Regions from separate parts of the Homo sapiens genome. Here regions 2, 3, 4 and 5 are each linked to region 1. Evidence: fine-mapped expression QTL. A gene starts in region 1. Each other region holds a variant in brackets. All regions are shown on one strand. Distances are from middle to middle.

Region 1 (5,708 bases):
GAAAGGCAAAGGGCGTGCTCTTCAAAGGGGAACTTTGATGCCATGTGGGAATGTGGATCTGCACTGCCAGAGTCCAACTTTACAAGAGAGGCTAAAAATCTGGACTCCTCAATGAATATTTTATGTGAAATTTTAAAAAATATGTGGGCCAAAACCCCATCTGCAAGCCAAATCTGGCATACTGTTTGCTACCCTGAATGGAAAATGTGGCTGAATATACCTATCTCTGTAGGGCATATTCTAGGGAGAGAGCAGACAAATCATTCAGGGCACTTTTTCAAACGACCACCCTCACGGTGAGACCTACATTATCTGTCCTCAGCCACAGGGCCTTGGGCCCTGTGGAGGATAAGTTTACTATACCTGAAAAAAGGGTGACACCCAGGACTCAAAATAAGACTTTCCTCCATATGTCAGGAGGCGGTCTCAGGTAGCTTCACAAGGGCAGTCAGGTGTCAACAGCAAGCCCAACAGATGACTGATAATGAGAGCTCCCACCTGAGGTCAAGGCAGTGACTAAAAGTCCCACCAAAAGGGGCAAGCTGGCCAGCAGAAGCCAGGGCTCTGCTGTTGAACTCAAGTAAAACAGGCCCTAGGGGGGCAGCCATGCACTCACTCGGCTGGCAGAGGGACAGGCTCAGCCAGAACTCTGGACTCCAACTCTGCAATCAGGTTCAGCTTCCACTTCCGACGCTGGACCTACAGTGACAGAGCATAAGGCCAAGCAGATGGCAGCAAGGTCAAGGGCCCAGAGTTACGCACACCAGATGCCGGTCTTTACCTGCCATGTCCCCAAGCCAAAGGCAGTCACAGGGATGAGGAGCAGGACCCACTGAAGAAAGGAGTCATCTTCCGCTTTTGTGGCAGATGCTTCTGCTGCAGAACTGCCACATCTGCTTGGCCTCCAGGCCACCCCTGGAGAGTTTCACAACACTGACATGGAGCCAGAAGCCCTCGAACACAGACCTGGAGCAGCCCGTTCCAAGACAGACTCCAGTACTGCCAATCAAAACCTGCTGCCTAGAGCCAACTAGCAGCACCTGTATCCAGCCCAGCTCCTAACCCGGTGCCCAGAACAAGGCACACACAGTACGTCTGCCAAGTGAGTAAGTGGGATCTAGGGCTCAGTGCCGGTTTGACCACCAACCACGACCCTGAGTAACTCATGCCTTTTTACTCAAGAATCTAGATGTATTCCACTGCACTAAGATGCACCATTCATCCATTCAAAATGCATTTAATAAGCAGCTACAGTTGGCCGGGCACGGTGGCTCACGCCTGTAATCCCAGCACTTTGGGAGGCCAAGGCGGGCGGATCACGAGATCAGGAGTTCGAGACCAGCCTGACCAACATGCAGAAACCCCATCTCTACAAAAAAATGCAAAAATTAGCTGAGCACGATGGTGCTTCTGTAATCCCAGCTACTCGGGAGGCTGAGGCAGGAGAATCGCTTGAACCTGGGAGGAGGTGGTTGCTGTAAGCCGAGATTGCGCCACTGCACTCCAGCCTGGGCAACAAGAGCGAAACTGTCTCAAAAAATAAAAAATAAGCAGCTACAGTTACTAAGTAGCTTAGTCAGGCACTAGTGGTTGTTGTGTTATGTAGAAAAATATATCAATTCAGTAATGGCTCACAGAGCTCTCTTAACAGCTTTCCATTTTTACAACTCATCGTAAATGTAAAGAGGGAAGAATGTACACAGAAAGTGCCTTTAAGCTCTCAGAGGATGAGTTCCATCCGCTGAAAAGCACCAGGGGCCTTGCGGATACTATTTTTTTTTTTTTTTTTATAAAAAGGCAGGCCTGGGGCAGGCTTGCACAGCACTCTACACACGGCAAAACAGCCCTGTGCTGCACACTGAGAGGAACACGTAAGCCGCGGTGGTTAGATACGCTTTACTTTCAGAGCCCTGGGCTTTCAGCCTGGGCTGGCCACCCATTAGCTGGATGGGACGTTCGGAAGTAACTCTCGAGCCTTCTCTGTAACAGGGGAACGACCAAGGAGCTACCTCTCGCGTTGTGAGGACAAAGCGCTCGCTACATGCCCGGCACACGACCACAATTCCACTGAAAGCATTTTAATACGGAACTTGTCACTCCCAGGGAGCCTCCGCTCAGCCGGCAGTTGGTTCATTTCAATCCCCACGACAACCCTTCAAAGTGCAGGGCAGACAGCAGGTGGCTCTGCCCAGGCGCCTGGATCACAGCCCGGCCTGCAGCCCTCACCTGGGCGCGGGGAGACCCTGAGGACGCTCCTCCAGGCGGCGCTGGCCGGGGCCTGCGGACACGGACGGGCGGGCTGAGCTCCGGGACCCCTCCCCGCGCCCCGCACCCCGCACCCCGCACCCGGCGCTCACCCGTCCCAGCCCCGCCGCCCGCAGCCCCAGCTGCAACGCAGCCACCGCCGCCATCGCACCCGGCCCCGCGGGCGCTTCCGGGACGCAGGAAGCATCTGCATCCGGGGCGCCGCTGAGTCCCGCCCAGAGCCCCGCCCCCGGCTCCAGGTTCTGCGAGCGGCTTCCGCCGGGCTGCTCCGCGGGCGCGTCGGCCATGAGCGAGTTGCCGGGCGACGTGCGGGCGTTTCTGCGGGAGCACCCGAGCCTGCGGCTCCAGACGGACGCCCGCAAGGTTCGCAGCGCGGGAGGGGAACGGAGTGGCGGAGAAGGGCGCAGTTGGGATGAGGGGCTGAGGGGAGGGCAGGGGAGAGGAGAGGGCAGGGGAGAGGGGAGAGGGGAGAGCAGGAGAGAGGGGAGGGCAGGGGAGAGGGCGCGGCGGGATCAGGGGAGGAGAGGGAAGGGGGCGCGGCAGGAGGGGGCACCAGGGAGCGGAGCCCTGGCCCTCCTGACGTCCTGCCCGCCCACGCGTCCGCAGGTGAGGTGCATCCTGACAGGTCACGAGCTGCCCTGCCGCCTGCCGGAGCTCCAGGTCTACACCCGCGGCAAAAAGTACCAGCGGCTGGTCCGCGCCTCCCCGGCCTTCGACTATGCAGAGTTCGAGCCGCACATCGTGCCCAGCACCAAGAACCCGTAGGTGGTCCGCGGCGGCGCGGGGAGGCCCAGGGCAATTAGGACAGCCCCTCCGCTGGACTCCGCCAGTGCTGCAGCCCCTACTCTTTCAGAGTTGGGAGCCCTGGGACCCAGGTGGGCGCCCGGGTGCTGGAATCACCTGCGGTCCCAGCGGCGAGGCCTCTTGGTGAGCTCGTTTGCTCACCTGAGGTTTGTCCTGTGGGGTGTGGCTGCTTCCCAGATGAGTAGAGGCTTGTGATTTGTCACCTGAGGTTGTGAACAGCGTTGGGTTCTTCCCTTAACCCCAGAAGGGGTCTTTGATTTAGCTGGGAGCTAGGCTTTGTAATAATCGTCAAAACAGAGATAGGATGTTTCCATTCATTGAGCCCTTGCTCCAGGTGGAGCCATCCTCTTGCATGAACTCATCCTGGAGCAGTCAGTGAGGCTGCCATGCGTGCTTTTCCGGTAAACATTAAGAGGCTGCAGTCGGCCTGGGTCAGACGGTTCCCCACCCAGCTTCAGAGTGGAATTGCTCCGGGAGCCTTTAAAAGCCCGATGTCCAAGCCGCATGGTAGACTGTCCAGGGATGAGTCCAAGACACAGCCACCAGTCTGAATCCTTGCTGTGAACTGTCCCTACAAATTTGGTCTCTCTGCTCTGTAGGCACCAGTTGTTCTGCAAACTCACCCTGCGGCACATCAACAAGTGCCCAGAACACGTGCTGAGGCACACCCAGGGCCGGCGGTACCAGCGAGCTCTGTGTAAATGTAAGTCCCAGTGGACCCCCATCAGTGCATCGCCATCTGAGTGCATGCCCGCCTTGCCCCAGATGGAGCGTGCTTGAAGGCAGGTCGTCCTTCAGCGATCCGTGTTGATGCATCAGGCCTGTTTTTTGGCACAGTGAAGAGAGGGATGATGGCCCCTGACCCCACAGCTTTTAGTGCAGGCAGGCACAGAGCCAGAAGCAGGCTCGGGAGTGAGTGAGTGTGCGTGGCAATGCGAGGTGTGAAAGAAACTGGGCGAGGGATGTGGGGTGGGCTTGCGGAGACAGGAGGGCTGGGGAGACTCGCTGAGGGATTCGCTCGAGGCTGAGGCTGGAGGGATGTGGTGGCAGTGGGGTCGGGGGAACAGCACCCCAGGGAGAAGCCAGGGTCCATGGAAGTCTGAGGCAAAAATGTGTTGGCTGAGGTAGGCTCCAAAGGACTGGCTGGGCTAGTGTGCACAGCCCGGATGACCCAGAGACCAGGCCAGGAGCACTGCAGTGGGTGTGTGGAGAGGGTTGGGTGGGGGCTGCATGGACAGTGTGCATGGTTGAGAAGGGAGGACTCCTTGACTGCGGTCATCCAGGAAAAGACGGTGGGTTTTGGGGGGAGAATTCAGAGTCCCTTTGAAGGTTTTAAGCTTGAGCTGTATTAGGAAAGGTGTGTATTAGGGAAGTATCGGGCTTTTGAAACAGGGACACCCGTGCTGGATGAAGGAGATGGTTGCACCGTGGATCTGGGTGAGCACCCGGCGAGAGTTTAGAGAAGGGAGAGAGGCCTGGTCCTGAGCCCCAGGAAGAGGCTGGAAGTCCTCCCGTGGTACTGAAGGGAAGATGAGGACAGAAAAATGATAGATTTGATAACACAGAGGCCCCTGGCAACCTTGGTGAGGCACCTGAAGCTTGGCAGGGACACCTGGCTAGAGTGGAGCGTAGGCTGCAGCCCATGAGGGCAGTGTCCGGCCTTAGGCAGGTGCTGGGTCACCAGAAAGCCTTTCTGGAGTCCAGCTAAGGAGGGAAATGGACAGAGGCTGGAGCGGACAGATTCAGGTTGGTTTGCGGATGGGAAGATGCGTCTACGGGCTTCTGATGAGTGCGGAGAGGCAGTCCAGCCCTCCCGAAGCATGAGTGTGGATTGAGAAGGCAGGACCAGGGTTTCTCAAGTAGAAGGCGGGCACCTTGCAGAGGCCTTGCAGGCACAAGGGCTGCCAGCCTGAGGCTTGGACTTTTTCCAGCCAGTGTGTTAGCTGCTCAGGGGTGGGCAGGAAGGCTCTAAGTGCAGGGGGCCACGGGGTTCCCATGAAGAATGGTTATGATGGTGGACTGTGGAGCTGAGATGGGACTGGGGCGCCGAGGTCACTGCAAGGCAGTGGTCCAGGGAAGTCCAAACGTGGCTGTAAGGGGGCTCTGCCTTCACGTTCTGGTGGTGACAAGGCTGCTGCATGGCCATGGGGGTGGGTGGCAGAGACAAGGAGGGAAACAGCCCTGGAGATGGGCCGCCACATCAATGGCCAGGGCCCAGCAGGGCTCATGCAGCCCATGAGGGATGATGATGGTAGCTGCGCTGGGCTGGAGGGCAAGCCCCAGCAGACCCTCCAATATACAAGGGGACAACGGTGGTGACTCCAGTGAGGTCTTTCCATGGAAGCCTTGTCCCAACTCCCTTCTCACCCACTAAGGGGCAGCAAAGGCCAGGCAGCCAACCTCCACTGAGCCCCGCCCTCCGGGACGGGGTCTCCCATGTGCTGAGGGAGGACTTCAGGCTGCTGGGGAGAGGGTGGCATCACTGCCAGCCCGAGTTGCCTTTGAGAGGCCATGCCAAGCTCACTGGGGCACAGTTGGCCTTGGGCCTGGTCAGTGCCCTCCTAGCCGTGGCTTCCTAGGCCTGGCTAGATCGGGGATGAGTGGTAAAGGCCCCGTAGACCTCTACCATCTTCTTGCCT
Region 2 (6,344 bases), 940 kb before region 1:
CTTCCCGGGCAGCAGGCCATACCCACCGGGCCCCTCCCCGCCCAGGCCTATAATTTCTCCAGCCTGTAAGCAGCGGTAGGCACTGGCATTAAGCTGGTCTCCCACCTCTGTAGGTCTCATGCTGGACATAAAGCCTGAATTTGCTGTAGAGCCGCCACTCTTTCTTTAACCCTCCCCTTCCCTTCAAAATCTAACCGAATCTAGGTGAAGCCTATATGTATTTTCATTGTATTCTTCTTTCGACTTTCAACTTTTCTGTAGGTTTGAACTTTTTCACCAAGTTGTGGGTGGGTGGGTAAGGGGATTTTTAAAAATGCAGCATCTGGCCTGGTGAGGTGGCTCATGTCATTATCAGAGCAAGACTCCGTCTCTTAAAAAAAAAAAAAAAAGGAGAGCCTCAGATGCCATTTCCAGATATTCTGATTTAGTGAGTCTGGGGTGAGTCCTGTGAATCTTCGTTTTTCTTTTTTTGGCACATGGTCTCATTCTGTCATCCAGACTGGAATGTAGTTGCCGAAACACGGCTCATTGTAGTCTCAACCTCCTCAAGTGATCCTCCTGCCTCAGCCTCCCCCATAGCTGGGACCACAGGTGTGTGCCAGCACACCTGGGTAATTTTTTTAATTTTTGGTAGAGATGAGACCTCACCATGTTGCCCATGCTGGTCTCAAACTCCTGGGCTCAGGCCATCCTCCCTCCTAGGCTTCCCAAAGCAATGGGATTACATGGGTGAGCAGCCAAGCCCAGCCCAAATCTGTATTTTTCAATTTCCCTTCATTCTGTTGCTTAAATTTGGGAACCATTGATGTAATCCAACTCTAGCGTTTCCTTGTCACCCATCTCACAGGAAAAAAAGAAAAAAAGCCCTTAGGATCCAAGAGGGTGACTTGCCCGAGTCCTCCCAGTGGGTCAGCATCAGCATCAGGCTTGGAATGCATTTAGTGCTCTGTCTCAGGTGTGTGTGTGGCGCAAAGAGCAGAGGTGGGGAGGGGTTGTGAGTGGAATGGGGGTGAGCAGAGGATGGAGTCTTCGACTTGGAAGACAAATGTAAATGACCCTCTATGAGCCACGCCGCTTTGAACGCAACCCACTGGAGATTCTCGGTTCTCCTGTATCGATTCAGGAAAACTCCAAACAAGTCCACACTGGTAGCCACCAAGAGTTTCTTGAAAGAAAAGTACAAGCCGAGCCGGGCTCTGTTGGCGTCCCGTCGCCAAGGAGACGGGCCGTTGCATTCGTCCTCCAGGGGTGGTCTTGGTTTTCTTTCCTCTCCCAGTCTGCAACGCGGGGCCCAGGAGACGCCCTGAGGATCCCGCGGGGCTCCTGCATTGCTCCGGGGCTCTTTGCGATGAGGGGCCGGCGCGAGCGGGGCGCGCCTGGCTCCGGAGGGGTCCTGGCATCTGAGTTTCCCCCTCAGGATCCCGGTGGTGCGGCCCGGGCCGCCCGGCAGGCCCTTCGGAGCTCCAGGCTGTGCCCGACGTGGGGAAGCGCGCCCAAACCAGCCCGCGGGCCGGCTCCCCGGCGACCTCAAGGATGCCAGAGGCCAGGAGCTCCGGCCCGGACCTCACGCGATGGAGGAAGCAGCAGCAGCCTGTGCGCCGCACGGTCAGCCAGGTCTGCCCGCCCCCGCGGCGGCCCCTGACCGTGGCGGACATCCGTTCCGGCATGGAGAACGAGCGGCTGGGGGTCGTGCGGGACTCCATGTTTCAGAACCCTCTCATCGTCAAGGTGAGCACCCCACGCCCACCGCGCTTTCGCTGTCGCCGGCTCCGGGCACCTGCGCCGCCGGGGGTCCCCACCCGCAGCGCCCTGGCCCCGCGGCCCGGGGTCCGAGCGCAGCGTGGGAAGCTCCAGCTCTGGTCCAGACAGGCCTGGACCCCCATGCAGGTCGCGTCGCCTCTCTCAGCCTCGGTTTCCCCATCCTCACAGTGGGATGATAATGGCACCACTAAAGGGACTGATTGGGAAGATTGAATAGGGTAATTTCTGCGGGACCTCGGGACAGCGCCTGACATGGGGTAAGGCTGCAATGGGTGCTGCTGTGGTTTCCCACAGAGTGAACCCACAGGGTGACAGATAGGTCGCACACGCCCAGTCTAAGTCGTGGCTGCCAGCCCTCCCAGGGTAAAGGCCGCCTCTCCGGTTCCGCTGCACGCCTGGGGTACGTCTATGCAGCGGTGGCTCCGTGTCTGTCCTGGAAGCATCACGTCGAATGTTCATTTCCGTTCGATCATACTAATTTCTTACCCAAATTACAACCCTAAGAGAAAAAAAGCATAATCTTTGGCCTAGGAGGCTCCGCAGACAAGAATGAGGGAGCTGCGGTTTCGGGCTGGATCACTTTCCCTTCCATTACACTTCCCTCCTCCCCACCTTTAGCCTCGCTTCCCGCTGATGGGAAACCAACACTGCTGTGGCGGCCACACCTTCCCGGGGGCCACTGGAGAAGTCAGGCTGAGGCTTGGGGGTCAGGGAGCAAGCCTCGAGGCGAATTTATCTTGCGCCGCTGGAGGGCAGTGCGCCTTTAAAAATGCGCCCCGCGTCCCAGGTGCGGGAGTGGAAGGCGCAGGTGGTAACCGTGGATTCAACAACAATTATTTGTGTGACCGCCAGGCGCTGAGTAGAGCCCAGAGGTGGTGGTGGCGGTTTGTTTTTGTTTTGGGGAAAAGGGAACCCGTGCTAGAATTAACTGAGTTAATTGGCTCCTGGCAAAACATTGACTCCCTCCTCTTGCCTTCCCTAAACTCGGTCCTGAGAGGAGGAAGGATACTGCCTAGGCGCAGGCTGCACCTGGGGGAGGCTGGCTTCCCACACTCGTGCCTTTCCATCGAATAGGCTCCTTTCTTAGGCCTCTCAAAGTGGAACAAGGTCCTTCACTTACTTCTACGTGAGAAGAGCCACTCTGAGTGGACAGGCAGGACAGGCAGGTGGGGCCCATTATTCTTGGATGAAGGAGAGAATCACGTCCGCCACCTCTGACTACCTGCATTAAGGTTAGGTCGTTGCTTTTGTTCAAGTAGTTAGTAGTGAGCCAACTTCTTCCTACTGAAGTGTAAAGTGAGGGCGTATGGAGTTATTCTCCATGGTGAGTTAGTGTGTGGTGCCCACGCTGAGCAATATGTACACACACACACACACACACACACACACACATACATGCATATGCATTTGTGTATGCACCCATATAACATACCGTTTACATCTATCATATATACATGTATGCATATGTATAATATACATGTACATATGTGTAAAATGTATGTACATATATGTAAATTTCCCCCTTCTTTTCCTTTTTCCTTTTGCTTCCCCCGCCCCACCCAGCTATATCGAGGACAACATTTGGCCTCTGGATGGCACTAGCTAAACAGCTTCTAGGACCAATTCAATCCCTGATTTCTGAACCCAAGCTTAGGGTCGGAAAATGTACAGGAGGTGACTCACCCACGACTGGGGTTCTGTCTTCAGGGCACGAGATGCAGAGCAGGTCTGCCCTGGCCCCTGGTGACCATGCTGGAGCAGCAGGGACCCACGTCCAGGCTCGTGCTCTCTGATGATGGAGCCTGGGGTTCTCTTCTTCCACCA[G/A]GGACAGCCAGGGGGCAGCCTTTACCTCTGGCTTTCCTTCGTGGGTTCTTCGGGGTCTTTAAGGTACTTTCTGGAGCAGTTAAGATGACGTCCACTTTTCAGTATTTACCATATATAATATTAGAATATCTTATAACTTTAGAGGTCAAAACCTGACATAAATAAAAGTTGGCAGAGAAATTGACCGCAAAAGGGAACCTTGACTGTTATCTTTTCTGGACCCTTTTTGCAAATGAGCACACTGAAGCCACCTCTGTTGTTTTTTTTGGGTTTTTTTGTTTGTTTGTTTTGTGCTTTTTTTTTTTTGTTTGTTTGTTTGTTTTGCTCAAGGTTTTGGCAGAGATTGGGTTTGCAGCTTCGTTTGCTAACTCCCAGCCCAGCATTATTTTTACCACTTCAAACAGCTTCCTATATTAGTTTTTTTAAAAAAATTATGAAACAACTTTGGTGTTTTTGACTAAAGAAAAAGAGAAAATGGAAAATATGTGAGGTTGTGGAGCTTTAAGATTTTTTTCTTTTCATGTTATGGAAATTTCTACTGAGCTTGGCTTGTGGATTTCTTCATTGTGGCATGTCAGTTTCACCATCATAGATTTTCAGCTCCCCGTAGTAGTGTGTGCCTTTCCGCTATGTATGGTAGAGGTTGGGAGTGCACTCTGCCGTGGTGTCTTTAGGAGGGTGATTAGAACTAAAGTATATTTTGGTTTTGTCTAAGTCTGAACCTGAAGGTGTGCATTGGAAGACTATAGCACCTTAGAAATAGGCATTTATTCTACCATATTGGGGGGTTGTTTCGTGGGTTGTTTTCTCCAATGAATAGGATCAGCATTTTTTTTCATTTAAAATGTAGAAATACTGACTGAACAAACTCAACAGTGTTATTTCACATCCATAAAATTTACCAGGATGTATACACATCAGTTATTCAAGAACACGTCTGCAAGTTGCCACCATAACCAAGTGAAAAGTGAAAAACTGAGACATCCAAGCAGGTATTTTATCTACAGATGCTCAACAACCATTTGCCTCATTTAAAACCAAGTCAACTGGTTATTTAATAGGAGTGATTGAATCAAGTCGGTGTTTTACATGGCCACAAAAGATGTAAATATTTTCCATTAGAAAGGGTTTCAACTCTAGTATAGACAGTGATGTGCAGTTAGCCCGTTTTCCTTCAAATGTGACTCTCTGGAAAGAATAAAATTAAATAGAGAAAGAACCAAGCTTCTCCCTGCTTGGTTCTCATTTCCCCAGAATTCTGTGACTCCACATAGAATCCTGCTACAATAGCCTTCAAGACTCCTTCACAAAACCTGTCAGGGTTGCACCTTTCCTGCCATCGGAACTCAGCTGATAACCTGTCAATACAATTATAGGGAGAGACTGCTTGGTTTGCTCCCCTGACAGCCTTGGATCTTCTGTCTCCCTGGAGAGGCTGCCTATGTACGGGGGTGGAATTTATGGAATCGAGCACCCTTAGAAAGTGTAAAAGATCGTAGCACCCGATTTTTTCATAATTTATTATTGACTTTGTTTTTCTGTGAGGTTTTATGTAACCAATAAGAAGTGCATGCATTTTTAAAATAGAGTCATAGAGCAGACACGGCATTTGGGGCTGGAAGACATCTTACAGACATCTAGTCCACCTCCTTTTTTGAGGAGATCAAGGCCCAGCGAGGGGAACAGACTCATCCGAGGTGCTATCCTCACCTGGTGGCAGAATTGGGATGAGACTAAGGTCTCCTGGCTTCCAGCCCCACGTTCTTTTGGCCACAACATATGATTAATTAACCAATGACAATCCAGATTGGTGACATCATGTATAGCAGGCAGTCAAAAAGTGTTCACAGATGAATCAGATCCCAATATCATTTCATTCAATGTTCCTTCCAAAGTGAGCTCTACTGATTTCTTAGGACTTCTTGACGGCCAAGAAATATTTGTTGAAGGTTTGTCAAGTGCCCAGTGCCATCCTGAGCTTTCCTGGGGGCATAGAAACAAGTTTAGAATTCAGCGTTGCTGAATTTCACAGGAGTTAACCATTTACTATTTAGCTGGGGAGATGGGATACATGCACACGTTTATAACTGTGCAGATAGAGATGAATGCGAAGAGGCAGGCAGCTTAGCACAGCACCTGCTGTAAGGAAAGCTCTTGGGAAATGTTAGCTCTTATTCACACACACACACACACACACACACACACACACACACACACGCAGGTATGCACAAATAAGACAGGCATTGTGATGGGTCCCCACCCCCGTAAGTTTTCAAGTGAGCTGCATTGCCCGGAAGAGTTCAGATTTGCAGGAAGGGAGTTCTGGGCAGGTCTCAGGGACCTGGAACCAGACCTTGAAAAGTGAAAAAGCAGAGTTGGGAAAGTCATTCAGCTCCATTCCGCCCTCCTCGGCTCCTAAATGCTTGTAGGTTTTCACCCCAACTTGAGTCCTAGTTTACAAGACCCAGTGCTGCCGCTGGGATCATTATCATTATCATCACGAGGAAGCGTTTATTTAGAGCCAGTGTGTTCAAATTGGATGCTCTACAAAATTAGGCAACCACACCATGCCCACTAATAGCTTAACATCTCTAATAAATATTGATGCTGGCGAACATAAAGGCACGGAGAGGGACCAACACAAAGAAGGCAGGCAGACAAAAGCCCAGTTGTACAAATATCCCAGCATGGGTCAGTATTTTTATTACATTTGAGTACAATCTGAAAATGTTACACGCAGCTTTATTGTTGAAGAGAAT
Region 3 (6,344 bases), 160 kb before region 1:
GAACAGAGATCGCGCCACTGCACTCCAGCTTGGGCGACAGGACGAGACTCTGTTTAAAAAAAAAAAAATCTCTGCACATGCTAAAATCCACAGAACTGTCCATGAAAAAAACCACTTTTTTTCTGTGTGAATTTCAAAATAAAATAATTAAAAAAATCAGAAAGAGACTCACGTTAAAAAACAAAGAATGAAAAGGAAAATATATTTTCCAAAAGAAGTTGCTGTGAAATATGAGGAGAAACATCAAATGTGAACACACAAAGATGCTTGGTGCTGATAACAGGAATGATCATCCTTAGGGAAAAGAAAATCACCACCATTGAGCTGGCCACACCAAAACAATTGTAAATTCTAAATATATGGAGCAAAAACTAATTGAATTTAAGGAGAACATGAGAAATCAACAACTGAAGCGGGATTATTTAACGGAGATATTCAGAAACAAATGGATGAAGTAGAGAAAAATATTTGAGAGTGTAAGATGTAAGTAACATGATCAGTTAAGTTCATCTAATAGGTGTTTGTGGAAATATGCAACTACCAAAACCCACAAATTAAGTTCAAGCACATGAGAAATGTTTGCAAAAACTTTTCAGCCATGTATCAGAAAGGAACTATCAACAGATTCCCATAGACAGTGTATACTCTTAGGATTACAAAGGAACTTATGAACTACTGAGAAATGAATAACAGTGACAGCAATCTCTATCAACATTTGTTGGATGCAGCTAAAGGTGTCCTTTGTTGCACTCAGAAAATTACAGACATAAGCATTAGAAACATAAAACATGGAAATATGGCCGAGCGCGGTGGCTCACGCCTGTAATCTCAGCACTTTGGGAGGTCGAGGCAGGTGGATCACTTCAGGCCAGGAGTTCAAGACCAGCCTGGCTAACATGGTGAAATCCTGCCTCTACTAAAAAAAAAAAAATACAAAAATTAGCCGGGCATGGTGGTGGGCACCTGTAATCCCAGCTACTCAGGAGGCTGACGCAGGAGAATCTCTTGAACCCAGGAAGCAGAGGTTGCCGTGAGCCAAGATCATGTCACTGCACTCCAGCCTGGGGCGACAGAGCAAGACCCTGTCTCAAAAAAAAAAAAAAAAAAAAAAAAAAAAAAGAAACATATAACATACAAATAAATGAACCAAGTGTTCAAATCAATATTAAAAATAATAACAGAGCAGGGCAGGAGCAGTGGCTCATGCCTGTAATCCCAGCACTTTGGGAGGCTGAGGCGGGTGGATCACTTGAGGTCAGGAGTTCAAGACCAGCCTGGCCAACATGGTGAAACTCCGTCTCTACTAAAAATACAAAAATTAGGCCTGGTGCAGTGGCTCACGCCTGTAATCCCAAGCACTTTGGGAGGCCGAGGCAGGCGGATCACAAGGTCAGGAGTTCCAGACCAGCCTGGTCAACATGGTGAAACCCCATCTCTACTTAAAATACAAAATAAATAAATAAATAAATAAATAAATAAGCCGGGCGTGGTGGTACTTAAAATACAAAATAAATAAATAAATAAATAAGCCGGGCGTGGTGGCGGGCACCTGTAATTCCGGTTACTCAGGAGGCTGAGGCAGGAGAATCGCTTGAACCTGGGAGGCGGAGGTTGCAGTGAGCGAGATGGCCCCACTGTATTCCAGCCCGGGCGACAGTGTGAGACTCTGTCTCAAAAAAAAAAACCCACGAAAACAAAAATTAGCCAAGCGTGGTGGCCCTCTCCTGTAGTCCCAGCTACTTGGGAGGCTGAGGGAGGAGAATCACTTGAACCCGGGAGGCGGAGGTTGCAGTGAGCTGAGATGGCGCACCGCACTCCAGCCTGGGGGACAGAGTGAGACTCCGTCTCAATAAACAAACGAACAAATAACAGAGCAAAACCAAAATGCCAAGGGAACGTGAGACAGGAGTGCGAGCTGGGAGTCGGCACACGGAGAGGCAGAGACACTCCTCGGAGGCAGAAGCTGGTTCCTTATAGAGATGGAAAGAAAGAAATGGACTCTGGGGAGACTGGAGAAGAACAGAAACACAGGAGGCAGAAATAAATACTGCGGATGGAAGCAGAGACAAAACAAAATGTAAGCTGCTCCAAATCGGCGGCGGAGCGAGTTCTGGAAGAGCGGCGGTGTGGGAACCTCCGGTGCCTTCCTCTCCCAGCTGCAGCTGCGTTCCCAGGCAGGCCTCCCGGGAGCCAGGGACGGAGGCCCAGGACTCCGCCAGGGGTGGGTCCGTTCCCCTTCTTGGAGGGAGTGTGACCCACAGGCCCCACGGAAAGGCAGTGCCACTCCCGTGACATTCCACAAGGCCCCGCTGGCCGGCCCCTGGCCTGCCCCCAGAGAACTGCTCGCAGGCAATGATGCCCTGCAGCCTGAGACCTGGGCACCCCGGCCTTTGCCCCAAGGAGGCTGGGGATAGAAGGGCTTCCTCCAGGATTCTCTGCAGGAGATGAGCAAAACGTCCGCAGAGCCAGTGACTGCGGGACCCACGACAATCTCAGGTCACGCCTGCCGGGAGAAGCAGCACCTGGACCTGAGCCCGGGGACGGGCAAAGGAACGCAGCTCGTGAGTGGCCCAGAGAGCGGGAACCAGAGCGCCCCGACGGCAGCGGAAGCCACCGCGGGCGCCAAACCAGTAACGCGCCCCTTGAGGACAGGAGGCCACGGCGCAAAAGCAGACTGGGCTCGGAAACACGTGCTTTACAAATGGGGAAATGAGTGAGACGATGCAGGAGAGACCGCAACCAGACGTAAAAGGTGAAGACCACCGCGAAGAGGAAGCTCTCAGCCAGAGCTGAGTGAGAGCCCGCGGGCGGGAGGGGGCCGGGCGCGCGGGAGCCTTCCCTGCAAACCCCGGGCGTTCCAGGAGCAGGGAGGCACACGGATGGAGGACAGGAGACCAAGAATGGCATAAAATTTCTCCGAGCAGAAGGAACGCCGCAGAGTGTG[A/G]GCGTGAGATTGCTAGCGCTCACAAATTCAGGCAAGGCAGGTGAGGAGAGACACAGGCCTGCGCATCCTGGAAAGCTCTTGGACTTAAAAGATGAAAATAAATGATCCTGGAAAGATCTCGAAAGATCAAGAATATAAAGCGCTTTTGTTTGTTTGTTTTTAATAAAACGAACCCCTAAACGCACACAGAAAGGAAGAACAAGCATCCATGGATTGTTCGGAGAAAAAGGTTGATATCCAAGAATGCGGTACCAGGCCAGGAACGGAAGAAAGTGAAGTGACCTGGGGGGAGGCGAGCGCTGATCCGAGGAGAGGAGCCAATGAGAGGCACTCACCAGGCAAGCGGGTGGGCGGGGGCCTGGCGCTGAGCACAGACAAGTCCAAGGGAAGATGCATAGGAGCTGATCGTGCAGAGATGGCAGCAAGTGGCAACGGAATCCCCCTGCATTGACAATAAACCTCCAGGAATCCCCCTGCATTGAGAGAATAAACCTCCCGGCTCTGGTTCTGTTCCGTGTCTGTTAGCGGGGTTTAGGGGTGAGTTAGGGAGAGGGCACTGCCACCAGCCCTCGGATATATTTCTCCTGCTGTTCACTATGTGTAATAGACAAACACCAACAAGAAGAGAAGAGGCCAGGCACAGTCGGTGGCTCATGACTGGAATTCAGGCACTTTGGGAGGCCAAGGTAGGAGGATCATCTGAGCCTAGGAGTTTGAGACCAGCCTGAGCAACGTTGGGAGTTTCTGTCTCTAAGAAAAAAAAAAATTACCTGGGCATAGTGGTGCACACCTGTAGTGGCAGCTACTCAGGAGGCTGAGCTACTCAGGATTGCCTGAGCCTGAGATATCAAGGCTACAGTGAGCTGTGATTGTACTACTGCACTCCAGCCTAGGCAACAGAGAAGGACAGTGTCTCATAAAAGAAAAAAAAAGAGGAGAAAAGCTTCCCAGACCTGCCCACACCATGGTGTCCAACAGGTGGCTGGGACCCCATGTCCTCCGGTCAGCTCTCACCAGGGCCTCATGGGACCTTCCTGCTGGGGGCTGATCTGAAATGCCCTGCTTCTTCAGACGGCTGAGGGTTTCTGCCCACCCAACCTTTGGCAATGCCAGGCGAGACAGGCACCTGCAGCCCCACCGTCACTGGCATCCTCTGGGCAGGTGCTCAGCGTTCCTTAGGGCCCAGGAGCAAGCCAGACGCCGCCTTTACTTTTGCAGGCAAAATAGAACTTTTTAAACTTCTGCCCATCTCTCTTTTGCACATACAGTATGATAGTCTTGCTAACCTACTGCCAGATGAGTGAATCTGCCTATCACCAAGCAACAGGTGCACTGTCCCATGAGAGGGATGGGGGTGGACGTACAGAACTCCAGGGTTCTCTGGGCACCCTCTGGTGCTTCCAGGCCTGTGAATTGGCACAGCAGGACCACAGACCTCCAAGGTGCCCACCTGGGGGCTCAGAACCCTGGCGGGGAAGGTCAGTGCTATCCCACCGGAGAAGAGACCTAGTCTAGCTGAGCCCCTGGCCAGCGGCAAGGAGGAAAGGATGAACATCAGCCACGCCTGGCACTGACTGCCACAGCCAGAGCCTCGCCCAGCCCAAGAATGTTTCTGTTCTAAGACTTTTTTCTTTTTTGTATTTTAGAAATTATCACAGGCAAATGTCACCTTGAAGACCCGGTGGCAGCAAAGTGTGAGCTCAGTGTGGGGCATGAGTGTTCTGAAGCTGCCAGGGGTGGACTGCAGTGGGTGCCATGGGGGCTGTCATAGCCCTTGGTTCTTGCTATTGCAGGCCACGCTGGCCACGTTTCCACCGCAGTGTCCTCAGCTCCTCTCTGGAGGGGTCGTCTTTCCACCTAAGCCGCCCTGCCCTGCAGCAGCGGGAAGTGCCAGGAATAAGTGCCCCATGGAAGCATCCCCATCCCGTGACCGGCTGGAGCTGGTCTAAAACATGGCAGCGCCAGGGACTGAGCCCCAGTTGGTCGCAAGTGGTCACCTTGATGCTGGACCCTTCACCAGTGGCCTTCCCTGCTAACGTCACCTCCCCAACCCTACTTAGGAGGGTCTCCTGGGACCACCTCCTAAGTAAACCACTTGAGCTTGCATCTGCCTCATCTGCTTCTGGGGGACTCACACTAGAAAAACAAAATTAATATTTTTTTGTTATATGGAGTGGTGTGATTTGAAATCCTTCTATGGATAATGAATGCTTGCTTATGTCTTTAAAAAAAATTTTTTTTTTTGAGACAGAGTTTTGCTATGTTGCCCAGGCTGGTCTCAAACTCCTAGGCTCAAGTGATCCTCCCATGTCAGCATCCTGAGGAGCTGGGACTACAGGTGCGCGCCACCACGCCCGACTCCAGCATCTTTGTTCTCTTAATATTGAGTCCAGACATGGAGTTAGGCAACCGCAGGCATGCAGATTACACTCCCCAGCAAGAAGGCTCATCATTGACACACATGCAGACTTAGGCTGTACCAGGCATGTATACCAGGGGGGTGCATTGTGAGTAGGTAGGTGTGTGTGCGGGTGGGAGACTGTGTGTATGTGTGAGAGAGAGCATGTGGCAGTGTGTGTGTAGGTGTGTGTGCATGTGTGAGAGCATGTATAGGTGTGTGTAGGGGTGTGTGTGTGCGCACATATGTGTGTTCATGTGTGAGATTGTGTGTAGATGTGTGCCCGTTCCTCACAGCAACCCTGCTGGTGAGTGCTCCTGTGGTCCTCTCTTTACGAACAAAGAAACAGGTTAAGCACTTTCCGGAAGGCTGGTGACCCACGAGCCCTGTGTCACACTTCTCAGTCTGCCTGGGGCCCTAGCTCTCAGCCTGGACACTTGGCCCCTGGTGAACAAGTCATGTCGGAGAGAACCCGTCTGGTGCGCCATCTCCAGGATACTTGTGTCCCTTTGTACATATATTTAAAAATTCATTTTGAAAGAACAAAAAAATCTCCACTGCCCTCCTTCACATCTGCGATTTCTTGATTTTCAAACACTGAAAGGCTCGTTTTGCTCCTGGAGAGATTCTGCTCGGTGCCTCTGCCATGCTTGGGTTGGGAGTGAAAGTTTTCCTGACTTATTTGGGATACTGTCCTCAAATATTTCAGATGTTGGGTGTCTGCGAGGGTCCCATGGTTATGAGCCATGGGAAGAGGCTTCGTGTGACTCAGTGATTGGAGAGTTTGTGGGTGGAATTGGGGGGTGCTGAGCTTGGAAGGGGAAGCTGCATGGGGCCAGGGCTCTCGGGAGCAGAAATGGATGATGGTTGGGGCCCACGTCCGCCAGGACAGAGCCTCCCACCTCGAGGGCTGCATTCCCAGGGCTACAGGTCCCTGGTCCACCCATCATGAGGTGGCCAGGACATTGGATGGATAGGGCAGATGAATGGACAAACAGCCCA
Region 4 (6,344 bases), 29 kb before region 1:
CCCCAAGCACCACAGAACGTGACCTTGTTTGGAAATGGTGTCACTGCAAATGTTATTAGTTAAGATGAGGTCACTAAGGTGGGCTCTAATCCAATGTGACTGGTGTCCTTATTATAAGAAGAGGCAATCAGGACCCACAGACAGGCACAGGGGGAAGATGAGAGGATGCTGTTTGCAGGCCAAGGACAGCACCCAGGAACAGCCTTCACTCAGGGTCCTCAGAAGAAACCAACCCTGCTGATGTCTGGACTGGACCCCTGCCCTCCAGAGCTGTGAACAATGAATTCCTCTCACCTAAGCTGCTCTGCGGTGCTTTGTTAATGGCAGCCCTAGCAAACTCATACACAAAGGTAACAGAATGTGTAAAAAAACAATTTTACAAAGGCAGCTATAACAGTATGAGACAAGAAAGCAGAGAGAGGATGGAAAATAGAATCGCCCTGCTGATTCCTTCATATTATAGTTGGATTCTAAAGACATCACTTAATGCTGACAAACTGAGAAGTTTAGCATATTAAAGAGGACAGAGGCAAATACTAAGAAATATAATAGTATTCATTCAAAAAATGGGTGGGCCGGGCATGGTGGCTCACACCTGTAATCCCAGCACTTTGGGAGGCCGAGGCAGGTGGATCACCTGAGGTCAGGAGTTCGAGACCAGCCTGGCCAACATGGTGAAATCCATCTCTACTAAAAATACAAAAATTAGCCAGGCTTGGTGGCGCGCATCTGTAATCCCAGCTACTAGGGAGGCTGGAGCAGGAGAATCGCCTGAACCTGGGAGGTAGAGGTTGCAGTGAGCTGAGATGGCGCCATTCCACTCCAGCCTGGGTGACAGAGCGAGGCCTGTCTCAAAAAAAAAAACAAAAAAAACCATGGGTGGTAGAAAAGAGAGAGAAGGGAGAGAGGGGAAAGGTTTACAAATTATTTCATAGTAGGGAACTATGAGAACTCTTTTAAAGGTTGAGGGGACTAAAGATATTATTTAAGGGTATGAACAGTAAGTAGCAACTAGACCCAAAAAAAATCAAGCCTTCCTAAAAACCAGAAGAGCTACATTTTTTAAGAGCAAATGCAGATTAAGTAATGACTATATGTAGTAAATGTGAAATAAAACAATTTCAAAAAGAACAAAGTTGGAAGACTCATGCTACCCGATTTCAACACTTACTATAGAGCTGCAGTGATTAAGACGGTGTGGCGCTGGCGAAAGGTTCAGGGGAACAGAACACACAGTTTAGAAATAGACCTACACAGATTTATGGCCAATTGATTTCAGATGAAGGTACAAGGGCAATTCTACGAAGACAGTCTTTTCAGCAACTGGTCCTGGAACACTGGACATCTTTATGCAAAAACGAACCTTCAAAATGGTTATGCCATTTTATTTATTTATTTATTTACTATTTTTTGAGATGGAGTCTTGCTCTGTCTTCCAGGCTGGAGTGCAGTGGCGACAGCTCGGCTCACTGCAACCTCCGTTTCCCAGGTTCAAGTGATTCTCCTGTCTCAGCCTCCCAAGTAGCTGGGATTACAGGCACCTGCCACCACGCCCGGCTAATTTTTATATTTTTAGTAGAGATGGATTTCACCATCTTGGTCGGGCTGGTCTTGAACTCCTGAGCTCAAGTGATCCACCTGCCTCGGCCTCCCAAAGTGCTGGGATTACAGGAGTGAGGCACCACGCCCGGCCACAAGTCCTTTATTATACTGTATGTTTTACAAATATTTTCTCCCACTGTGAGCCTTTTTATCTGTTTTCCTAATTTTTAATTTTTGATGAAGTGCAATAATTGACAGAATGAATAGATAGAAAATTGGCACCAGGTGCAGTGGCTCACGCCTGTAATCCCAGCACTTTGGGAGGCCGAGGAAGGCAGATCACCTGAGGTCGGGAGTTCGAGACCAGCCTGACCAACATGGAGAAACCCCATCTCTATTAAAAATACAAAATTAGCCGGGCATGGTGGCGCATGCCTGTAATCTCAGCTACTCAGGAGGCTGACAGGAGAACTGCTTGAACCCAGGAGACAGAGGTTGCAGTGAGCCAAGACCGCGCCATTGCACTCCAGCCTGGGCAACAAGAGCAAAACTCTGTCTCAAGAAAAAAAAAAGAAAGAAAGAAAGAAAAAAGAAAAGAAAATTGGCAAGGATACAGAACTTGAACTCCACTGGACCTGACATTAAAACACTTGACTCAACAAGAGCAGAAAACATTCTTCTCGAGCACACACAGAACATTTACCAGGAGAGACCACAGTCTGGGCTATGAAACAAACCCTGTTAACTTCAAAAAGATTCAAGTGGTTTTTTGTTGTTTTTTGATACACGGTCTCACTCTGTTGCCCAGGCTGGAGTGCAGTGGCAGGAACATGGCTCACTGCAGCCTCAACCTCCTGGGCTCAAGTGATCCTCCCACCTCAGCTTTCTGAGTAGCTGGGACTATAGGCATAGGCGTGGGCAACCGCCCCAGGGTGATTTTTTAAATTTTTTTGTAGAGACAGGGTCTCGCTGCATTGCCCAGGCTGACCTCAATCTCCTGGGCTCAAATGATCCTCCTGCCTCAGCCTCCCAGTATCGGGATTACAGGTGTGAGCCACCACGCCCCAGCCAAGGACTCAAGTTATACAAAGTATGTTCTCTGACCACAATGAAATTCAACTAGAAATCAGTAACAGAAAGATCTCTGGTAAATTCCCAAATATTTGGAAACTAAATGACATACCTTTAAATAACTCATTAGCCAAAGAATAAATCAAAGGGAAATTAGCAAGTATTTTGAACTGAATGAAAACACAACATATGAAAATTCGTCAGGTATCACAAAAGCAGACTGAACTTTTTAGACCTTACAAATGCATGACTGTCCCCCTTGCCTCTGATCTTCTGCCTGGGGTCTGCCTTTCCCCAATCTTTGTTCACTATACTGAATCCTACATGACACAGTCAACCTATGAAGAAATCCAGAGATAGACTCTCTAAAATAAATGGATTTGGGAATAGCAGCTTATCTGGAATACTGCAACCGTTGAGGATGGTCTTGCAGTGAGTCCTGTTATTGGTCTGTTTGTAGAAATGTCTTGTGGTAAGTCCTGTTGCAGGAATGTGTGCGTGAGGGCTGCTTCATCACCTCCAACTGTTTTAGTTTGACATAAGTGACTCCATTTTGGTACCGGCAACGTTCACAACTTTCCATGTGACTTCAGCACCCTGCACCCCGATCCTTTCCCTGGCCACTTTGCAGGACCACTACCTATGAGACTATGGGTTCCTTGAGAGCTAGGGCTGGGTCTCATT[C/T]GCTCCTGAAACTTTCACCCAGCAGAGTGATGGCCCACGCCATGCATGACATGCGTTGCTCAATGACTGCATCCACTCAGCCAGTATGCCAGTCCCCACTGAGCCTCACTCTCAACCTCCCTGGCTGGCATAGGTTCCTTGTGCAGACATCCAGTGGCAGTAAAATATTGCTGGGTTCTCAGCTTCCCCCACCTGCAGCCCTCACTGGCCCACCCAGTTGTCCTGTCTCTGCTCAGGACGAGACCCCCCCCCGCCTCTTCAGTCTCTGTAGCCAGGTGATGGCAGTGGCCTTTTCCAGACCCTCACTGGCCCCTTAGTTCACTATGATGACTTCACCTCTTGGGAACCCATGGGGATGTCTTTCCCTCCAATACATCTACATTTGCCTGACCCAGAATGTAGTTTCAAGATGGGTCCATGCCTGGCTCCAAATCCCCTTATCAGAGTAAGGAAATACCTTAATTCCTAGTTTGCTAAAAACTCGTTATAAATGGCTGTCGCGTCATTTACTGTGTTCCTGTTCTGCAACCATTGAGATGGTCACGTGGGTTTTGCTCCTTTAATCTATTGATATGAATTACACTCTTGATTCTCTGGCATTGAAACTGCTTTGCAATTCTGAATTAAATCCAGTGTGGCACTTTGCTAAACTTGGTTTATTATTGTCTAAAATCTTGACATTGGTATTTGTAGGGACCAGCCCCACAGGGTCCGTGGGTCTCTCCCTCCCTGTGTGCAGCAATGAGAGAGTGTAGAAATACACACACAAGACAAAGAGATAAAAGAAAAGGCAGCTGGGCCCGGGAGACCACTACTACCAATGCTCGGAGACCGGTAGTGGCCCCGAATGTCTGGCTGCATTGTTATTTATTGGATACAAAGCAAAAGGGGCAGGGTAAAGAGTGTGAGTCATCTCCAATGATAGGTAAGGTCACGTGGATCACGTGTCCACTGGACAGGGTGCCCTTCCCTGCCTGGCAGCCGAGGCAGAGAGAGAGAGGAGACAGAGAGAAAGACAGCTTATGCCATTACTTCTGCATATCAGAGACTTTTAGTACTTTCACTAATTTACTACTGCTATCTAGAAGGCAGAGCCAGGTGTACAGGATGGAACATGAAGGCGGACTAGGAGCGTGACCACTGAAGCACAGCATCACAGGGAGACGGTTAGGCCTCCAGATAACTGCGGGCAGGCCTGCCGGATGTCAGGCCCTCCACAAGAGGTGGAAGAGCAGAGTCTTCTCTAAACTCCTCCAGGGAAAGGGACACTCCCTTTCCCGGTCTGCTAAGTAGCGGGTGTTGTTCCTTGATACTTTTTGCTACTGCTAGACCATGGTCCACCTGGCAACGGGCGTCTTCCCAGACGCTGGCGTCACCGCTAGACCAAGGAGCCCTCTGGTGGCCCTGTCCGGGCATAACAGAAGGCTCGCACTCTTGTCTTCTGGTCACACCTATGTCCCCTCAGCTCCTATCTCTGTATGGCCTGGTTTTTCCTAGGCTATGATTATAGAGCGAGGATTATTATAATATTGGAATAAAAGGTAATTGCTACAAACTAATGATTAATGATATTCATATGTAATCATATCTAAGATCTATATCTGCTGTAACTATTCTTGTTTTATATTTTATTATACTGGAACAGCTCGTGTCCTCTGTCTCTTGCCTCGGCGCCTGGGTGGCTTGCCGCCCACAGGTATTTGGTAACTTCCCTTTCTCTTACCTAGTTTTGGTATCAAAGCTAAGTTCACGAATGAAGTGTTCTCTCAATTGATTCTGTTAGAATTTGTCTACGTCTGGAATTACCTGTTCTCTATATCGTGGAACTTCCCTGTAAAACCGTCTAGGGGAACATTCTTAACTACTGACTCAATTTCATCAGTGATTACAACTCAGGCTTTCTATTACTTTTAGTCAGTTTTGGAGATTTTTCTTCCATTTACTTTGAGTTGTTCCAACTTAAGCTGCATGCTTATTTTTCTTTAGCTTTAAAAATACAGACATACAGCGTATGTGTGTATAAATGGCACTATTTATCTGTAGATGCACATACATTTAGGGGCTATGTTTTTTTGTGCTGCTTTAGCTCTGTTCCACAAATCTTAAATTTTTTCTTTTTGAGACAGTCTTGCTCTGTCACCCAGGCTGGAGTGCAGCGGCTCGATCTTGGCTCACTGCAGCCTCTACCTCCTGGGTTCAAGTGATTCTCCCGCCTCAGCCTCCCAAGCAGCTGGGACTACAGGTTTGCACCACCACACCCAGCTAATTTTTTATTTTTAATAGAGATGGGGTTTTATCATGTTGTCCAGGCTAGCCTTGAACTCCTGATCTCAAGTGATCCACCCGCCTCCCAAAGAGCTGGGATTGACAGCATGAGCCACCATGCCAGGCCCTGTTCCACAAATTTTAATACGTAGCATTTTCATTATCCTTTAGTCCCAAATATTTCTAATAGCCATTCGGAATTCTTTAACTCATAGGTAATTTATAAGTGTGTTTTAAAAATTCCAAATATGAAATGCCACTGCACTCCAGCCTGAGTGACAGAGCAAGACTCTATCTAAAAAACAAAAAAAAATAGCTCAAATTTTTTTTAATGACATTGGGATACGGTCAGATAACGACACTGATTCCTTGAAATATCTTAAGACTTCTTTTCTGGACAAAGTAGGTGGTCAGTTTCCATCCATGTTCCATATATGCATGGAAAGAGTATGTATTCTTTTCAGATACTGTTGTGTCTGTCTCTCAGCTCAAGCTCATGCTCACCTCACATCCTATCTTTCACAGGGCTTTTTCATCAGTTGCCTCTGTCTGGTAACAGTCACACCAGCTCCTGTTCAGTTACAGTCTTTGTCTCATAACCGGAGAGTTTCATCAAAAGAATTTTATTTACAGCTTTATCATCCATATGCCACTAAAATTCACCTGTTTTCTTTCAACCTGCACTCATTTTGATTGCCTGGAACTCTGGATTTAATTCTTCCATCCCACTTTGTATCTTGCATTCACTTCACTCTCTCTCCAGCTTTTATTCTTTCTTTCTC
Region 5 (6,344 bases), 28 kb after region 1:
CCTCCCCACCTCCACCCGGAGAGGGCACAGGAGAGAAGAGCACTGTACATTCCATGCGTGGAGACAACCTTCCCCATGTGGGTAAGGAATGAAGTGGTGAGATTGATGCTTTCCCAACCAGAACAAGATGTTCCTGTTTAAAGACGGTCTGAAAATGGATCCTTTACTGAGTTCTTGGAGCGTATATTATGCTGTCCTAAACTTATCTTTGCAAAAGGAGCAAAGATGTTCTCATTGCTCTAAGTATTTTTAGATCTCTGCCTTAGGAATATCTTCCATTTGTGCCATATGGTGGGGGCAGGAATGGTGGGAGCCTGTCACTCCTGCTAAATAGTGATGATGGTGGTGATGATGGAGGTGGCAATGATGGTGGTAGTGGTGGTGATGGTGGTGGCAGTGATGATGGTGATGATGATGGTGATGATAATGGTGATGGTGGTGATGGTGTGATGATGGTGATGGTGGTCATGGTGATGGTGTGATGATGGTGATGGTGGTCATGGTGATTATGGTCGTGGTGATGATGTGATGATGGTGGTGGTGGTGTGATGGTGATGATAGTAATGGTGATGGTGGTGATGGTGATGATAATAGTGGGGATGGTGACAGTGGTGTTGATGGTGTGATGGTGGTAATGATGATGGTAATGATGGTGATGATGGTGGTGATGATGGTAATGATGGTGATGATAGTGACGATGGTGACAGTGGCATTGATGGTTTGATGGTGGTGATGGTGTGATGATGGTGGTGGTGTGATGGTGATGGTGGTAATGATGGTGATGATGTTGGTGATGGTGGTGATGATGGGGATAATAGTGGTGGTGGTGACAGTGGTGTTGATGGTGTGATGGTGGTGATGGTGTGATGATGATGGTGGTCGTGGTGTGATGGTGATGGTGGTAATGATGGTGATGAGGTTGGTGATGATGGGGATAATAGTGGTGATGGTGACGGTGGTGTTGATGGTGTGATGGTGGTAATGATAGTGGTGGTGGTGGTGATGGTGTGATGATGGTTAAGGTGGTGATGGTAATGATTTTGATGATGGTGATGATTGTGTGATGATGGTGATGATGGTGTGATGGTGATTTTGGTAATGATGGTGGTGATGGTGATGATAGTGATGATGGTGATGGTGGTGGTGTTGGAGTGATGGTGGTAATGGTGGTGGTGTGATGATGTGATGGTGGTAATGGTGGTGGTGTGATGATGGTGGTGATGGTGATGGTGATGATGGTAATGATGGTGATGGCAGTGATGATGGTAATGATGGTAATGATGGTGATGATATATGATGATGATGGTAATGATGGTGATGATAGTGGTGATGGTGGTGGTGATGGAGTGATGGTGGTAATGGTGGTGGTGTGATGGTGATGATGGTGGTGATGGTGATGATGGTGATGATGGCAGTGATGGTGATGGTGGTGATGAAGGTGGTAATGATGATGTTAATGATGGTGATGATAGTGTTGATGGTGGTGGTGATGGAGTGATGGTGGTAATGGTAGTGGTGGTGGTGTGATGATGGTGATGATGGCAGTGATGGTGATGATGGTGATGGTGATGATGGTGACAGTGATGGTGGTGTTGGTTGTGGTTGTGGTAATGATGGTGATGGTTGTGGTGGAGGTGGTGGCTGTGCAGATGATGGTAATGGTCGTTGTGGTGGTGGTGATGGCGGTGATAACGGAGATGATTTGCTACATGTTTATTAAGCTCATGCTCTTGTGCCCTTGCAGGTGGAATGCATGGATGACCATTACGCCAGTCAGGCCCTGGAGGAGGTAACTCTCAGGGTAGTTTTCCCTCTGGAAGAGCTCAATGGAGCATACACAGACTGTGTTCTGTACCTTCTTGTTGAGTGCCTGGATGAAGAGAAGGCTGGAGGGAGGGATAGAGCATCAGCACCAGTTTTGCCTCAGCTGTGAAGCCAGCAGCCCCAGGTCATGAAGGGAGTCCATGCCCCAAACACTCACTGCTAAATGCAGGTGCCGACAACTTAGAACATATGTTCCCAGAGAACATAAAATTTAAATATTGGGCTGGGCACGGTGGCTCACATTTGTAATCCCACCACTTTGGGAGGCCGAGGCGGGTGGATCACTTGAGGTCAGGAGTTCAAGACCAGCCTAGCCAACATGGGGAAACCCTGTCTCAACCAAAAATACAAAAAAATTAGCTGGGCATGGTGGTGGGCACCTGTAATCCCAGCTACTTCGAGAGGTTGAGGCGGGAGAATCACTTGAACCTGGGAGGCGGAGATTGCAATGAGCCGAGATTGCACCATTGCATTCCACCCTGGGTGACAGAGCAAAACTTTGTCTCAAAAATAAATAAATATTGGCCGGGTCCCTAGGTTAATCTACCAATAACTTCTTTAAATATTTTTTCTTCAATATAAAATTATTAATTACAGCAGAAAATTTTAAAAATACAGAATTGGGTTTTCTTTTGTTTTTACCTTTTTTTTTTTTTCTTTAATAGCAATGGGGTCTCACCATTTTGCCCAGGCTAGTCTGAATTTCTGGGCTCAAGCAATCGTCCCACCTCGGCCTCCAAAGTGCTGGGGTACAGGCATGTACCACCACACCCATACCAGAACTGTTTAACAAAACAAATATAAATTACCCTTAATTCTACCATTGAGAGCTGCCCAGCAGTAACATACTCGTTTACAATAATAGCGATAACAGCTGCACTTCGGTTTGATTGGCAAAGCCTCCGAGTAGCCTTTCTTTGTGTTTCTTGAATTTCCCACGAGCTTGAAGGTGTCCCCTCTTATCTCATGGTCACTTGTTTGTCTTCTGGAATTGCTGGCTCTGGAGCTTGGCCAGCAAACATTATTGGGTGTATAGTGTGACCGAAGCACAGTGGTGGGCCCAGGCTACTCGGTAACAAATGGGAAGAAAGAGCATGGGGCCTGCCCAGAGCCGCACGCCGCCGTGGCTTTTCACGTTGCCGATTCCCATCCACAGCCCACTAGGTAGGCCACCTGCTTTCATGCCCAACCTTCCACCCCAAGCAGTTGTCTGTCTGGCTCCATGTCTCTAAGGCAGCCCTATCTGCTCCTGTTTGGGCATGTTTCAAAGCACTTTCCGCCAGGGCAGGGGCACCGGGACCTCTC[C/T]GTGTGCCCACCTCCCGGTGTCTGCACCACCTCCTCCAGCCAGCCCTGGCTGTGGCTGATCCCCACCTTCCTGGCACTGCCTGCCACAGCTCACTCACCCCCCATGGTATCCCTGTGAGGCAGATTCCACTAGGACCCCCATTTTCAGATGACTATATGAGGCCCAGTCACCCAGCACAGCCAGCTCATGCTGGAGACAGGACCCACATCGGACTGCCTGGCTCCCAACCACCGTGCAGCTTCCCTGAGCCCACTCCCTGGCCCAGCTCAGAGCCCGAGGCTTGCATGTTTGTTGGGATGTGTGACAGAGAAGCCCGAGCTGAGAAAGGCGTGGAGAGGCACTGACTTCTCCGTTTCCTCTGCTCTATCCTGGCAGCTGATGCCACTGCTGAAGCTGCGGCACGCCCACATCTCTGTGTACCAGGAGCTGTTCATCACGTGGAATGGGGAGGTGGGTCAGAGCTGACACCTACGGGCTCAGCCGCCACGCAGTGGGCTGCAGGACCAAGCAGACTGAGCCCAGAGCACGCCCACCCCCCACTGTCAGAATAGCTCGTGTGGCAATGGCAGTGACTGTAAACGTGGCCACCCCTGACCTAACACTCACTGGGGCCAGGTACCATGCTGGGGGCTTTCGGTGCATAGTCTCATAGGAGCCCCAAAAACCTCATCGTCAGGAGAGTTTTTTTTTTTTTTGGACAAAGTCTCGCTCTTGTCCCCCAGGCTGGAGTGTAATGGTGTGATCTTGGCTCACTGCAACCTCTGCCTCCCGGGTTCAAGAGATTTTCTTGCCTCAGCCTCCCGAGTAGCCAGGATTACAGGCGCGTGCCATGATGCCCGGCTAATTTTTGTATTTTTAGTAGAGACGGGGTTTCACCATGTTGGCTGGGCTGGTGTTGAACTCCTGACCTTAAGTGATCCGCCCGCCTCGGCCTCCCAAAGTGCTGGGATTAGAGGCGTGAGCCACCACGCCTGACCAGGAGGGGTTCTTAACCCATTTGACAGAAGAAGAAACAGAGGCTAACAGAAACAAGTTGCTCCAGGTTACCCAGCTAGTACGTGGCCAAGCCAGAGGGCCAGGCCAGATGGGCCTGACTCCCGGGCTCTGCACGCAGCCAACGAGCTTGTCCTGGTGAGCCTGTGCCTCTGATGACAGAGTTTTTACTTTCATGGAAGGAGCTAGTTGACCTCCGTCTCCACAGCCACCCGACACCGGTGCCGTCCTGGGCCTGTGCGCCCCTTACTCCTGCAGCCCCTGTGCAGCTTACTGACCAGCACCACATCCGTCATCACGTGCCAGGAGGGCTGCAGGGCAGGAAGTACTGTCCCTGTGCTCCTGATGGGGCCTAGGGCTCCGGTTCAGGAGCTCTCCAAGGCCACACAGCTAGTAAACAGCTGACTGGGGACGGAGACTCAGGTCCAGCAGCCGGGTCCTGTAGGCTGGATGACTTCTTGTCTTTACAAGGAGCCAGGAGCTTTCCAGTCACTTCTGATGGGACTGAGGCAGACAGCGGGAGGCTGAGCAGGCACAAGGGGTGCTGGAGGTAAAGAGAGGCTGAGAAGCCTTCTGCCAGGCGCCAGCCTGCATGAGATGTCCACACTGGTGTTCCCACCTGGGGCCAACAATCCCGGGTCCGAGCAGGAAAGGCCCCTCACACGCTCCCTCTGCTCCAGCGGGTCTTGGGGAGGGGACCTCACTGCATGCACTCCCAAAGATTTTCTGAGCACCCCCTAATGCTCTCAAGGAGGGTGCAGAGAAGCCAAGAGGACATTTCCCTATGGGAGGGAGCACAGAATTGGGGGCCCTGACCTGGTCTGCTGGGGCTCTGGCCAGGGCAGGGTCCTCAGAGGAAATGGGTCTGAGCTGAGCCCTAAAGGGTGCATAGTTATCCCTATGAAGGGGGTGGGTAGTGGTCCAAGCAGAGGGGTCCATGTGTGCAGTGGCCAGGGGACAAGTGCAGCTTTTGGGAAAGTCCAAGTAGCTTGGTGTGGATGGAGTGTGGAGTGGAGGTGGAGCCTGGGAATGGGGAGAGGAGAGAGAGGAAGCTGAAGGTGGGGCAGGAGGGGCTTGTAGCCCCCTCCAGTGGGCAGTGCTCCCACGGCCACTGCAAATGGCAGCTGAGCGCAGGGAGGCCCTGGAGCAGGTGAGCCTGCAGAAGCACCGGGGCCTGGGCGTCCTTTGGCTAAGGGCCTCCTGTCCCAGCAGATCTCTTCTCTGTACCTCTGCCTGGTGATGGAGTTCAATGAGCTCAGCTTCCAGGAGGTCATTGAGGATAAGAGGAAGGCAAAGAAAATCATTGACTCTGAGGTGAGGTCCTTTGGGGCACCAGGCCTGGGGGCCACCTAGACCTGTGACACAGGCCCTGCGGTGCAGGGCAAAGTAACAGCGGGAGGGCAGGCACCATGGAGTCCAGCCTTGTTTTTTTCTTAAATGTGTGCCTCGAGGCATTGCACTCTAGGTAATGTGTGCAGATCTTAAGTGCACAGTTTGATGCACTCACACAACTTCCACCCAGATCAAGACAGAAGGCGTTCCTAACACTAGAAGGTTCCCAGTCGGTGACCATGATTCCAGATTGTTCTGCCGGTCCCTGAAGTTCCTGTAAATGGACTCGTCCGGCATGCTGCCACTCCTGTCTGGTCTCCTTCCCTCAGCCTGCTGTTGTGAGCCCCGCGGTGCTGCTGCATGCACCAGCAAATCATGTGTTCATTGCTTGCTGCCACTCTGCTGCCTGATTGCGCTGCAGGCTGTTTACCTAGTCTCATTTGGGCTGCTTCCAGTTTGGGGCTATTGTGAATAAGGCTGCTATGAGCATTGCTGGAAGACACTCACTTTTCTGGGATGAATACCTAGGAGTGGAATTATTGGGTCGTAGAGTACATGTGTGTAGCTTCAGTGGATGCTCCAAACAGATTTCCGACTTGGTTTGGTTGGCCCCATGTTTACTCTCACAAGTTGTGAGCATTCCCGATCCACATGGAGGCCAGCACTTCATTGTGTCAGTCTTGTTGTTGTTGTTGTTGTTGAGATGGAGTCTCACTCTGTCGCCCAGGCTGGAGTGCAGTGGCACGACCTTGGCTCACTGCAACCTTCGCCTCCCTGTTCAAGCGATTCTCCTGCCTCAGCCTCCCAAGTAGCTGGGACTACAGGTGCCCACCACCACACCCACTAATTTTTGTATTATTAATAGAGACAAGGTTTTGCTATGTTGCCC

The links. PIP is the estimated chance that this variant, and not a neighbour inherited with it, causes the effect.
Region 2: its variant is fine-mapped to the expression of SURF1 in uterus (GTEx, PIP 0.96).
Region 3: its variant is fine-mapped to the expression of SURF1 in atrial appendage (GTEx, PIP 0.97).
Region 4: its variant is fine-mapped to the expression of SURF1 in whole blood (TOPMed, PIP 0.99).
Region 5: its variant is fine-mapped to the expression of SURF1 in lymphoblastoid cells (GTEx, PIP above 0.99).

Annotation. Positions count from the first base shown.
Region 1 is chr9:133,354,043-133,359,750 of GRCh38, forward strand. It overlaps SURF1 (SURF1 cytochrome c oxidase assembly factor), which reads right to left and starts at 2,445. Exons shown (of 9, transcript NM_003172.4): 1 at 2,358-2,445; 2 at 2,227-2,278; 3 at 782-915; 4 at 617-699. The coding sequence starts at 2,411. It overlaps SURF2 (surfeit 2), which reads left to right and starts at 2,508. Exons shown (of 6, transcript NM_017503.5): 1 at 2,508-2,628; 2 at 2,872-3,026; 3 at 3,669-3,772. The coding sequence starts at 2,551. RefSeq lists silencers at 2,247-2,366, 2,607-2,676.
Region 2 is chr9:132,408,739-132,415,082 of GRCh38, forward strand. CFAP77 (cilia and flagella associated protein 77) reads left to right here and starts at 1,473. Exons shown (of 6, transcript NM_001282957.2): 1 at 1,473-1,728. The coding sequence starts at 1,534. It overlaps LOC105376304 (a long non-coding RNA gene), which reads left to right and starts at 1,903. Exons shown (of 3, transcript XR_930405.2): 1 at 1,903-2,993; 2 at 4,491-4,577. RefSeq lists a silencer at 2,581-2,630. The variant G/A (reference allele first, on the strand shown) is at 3,586.
Region 3 is chr9:133,197,548-133,203,891 of GRCh38, forward strand. No RefSeq gene overlaps it. Among named protein-coding and RNA genes, the nearest start is that of OBP2B, 8.5 kb to the right of the region's middle. RefSeq lists an enhancer at 2,469-3,190. The variant A/G (reference allele first, on the strand shown) is at 2,945.
Region 4 is chr9:133,324,841-133,331,184 of GRCh38, forward strand. It overlaps SURF6 (surfeit 6), which reads right to left. Exons shown (of 5, transcript NM_006753.6): 5 at 3,936-6,344. Among named protein-coding and RNA genes, the nearest start is that of SURF6, 8.2 kb to the right of the region's middle. The variant C/T (reference allele first, on the strand shown) is at 3,298.
Region 5 is chr9:133,382,112-133,388,455 of GRCh38, forward strand. It overlaps STKLD1 (serine/threonine kinase like domain containing 1), which reads left to right. Exons shown (of 18, transcript NM_153710.5): 3 at 1,745-1,789; 4 at 3,506-3,580; 5 at 5,336-5,437. Among named protein-coding and RNA genes, the nearest start is that of STKLD1, 8.9 kb to the left of the region's middle. The variant C/T (reference allele first, on the strand shown) is at 3,130.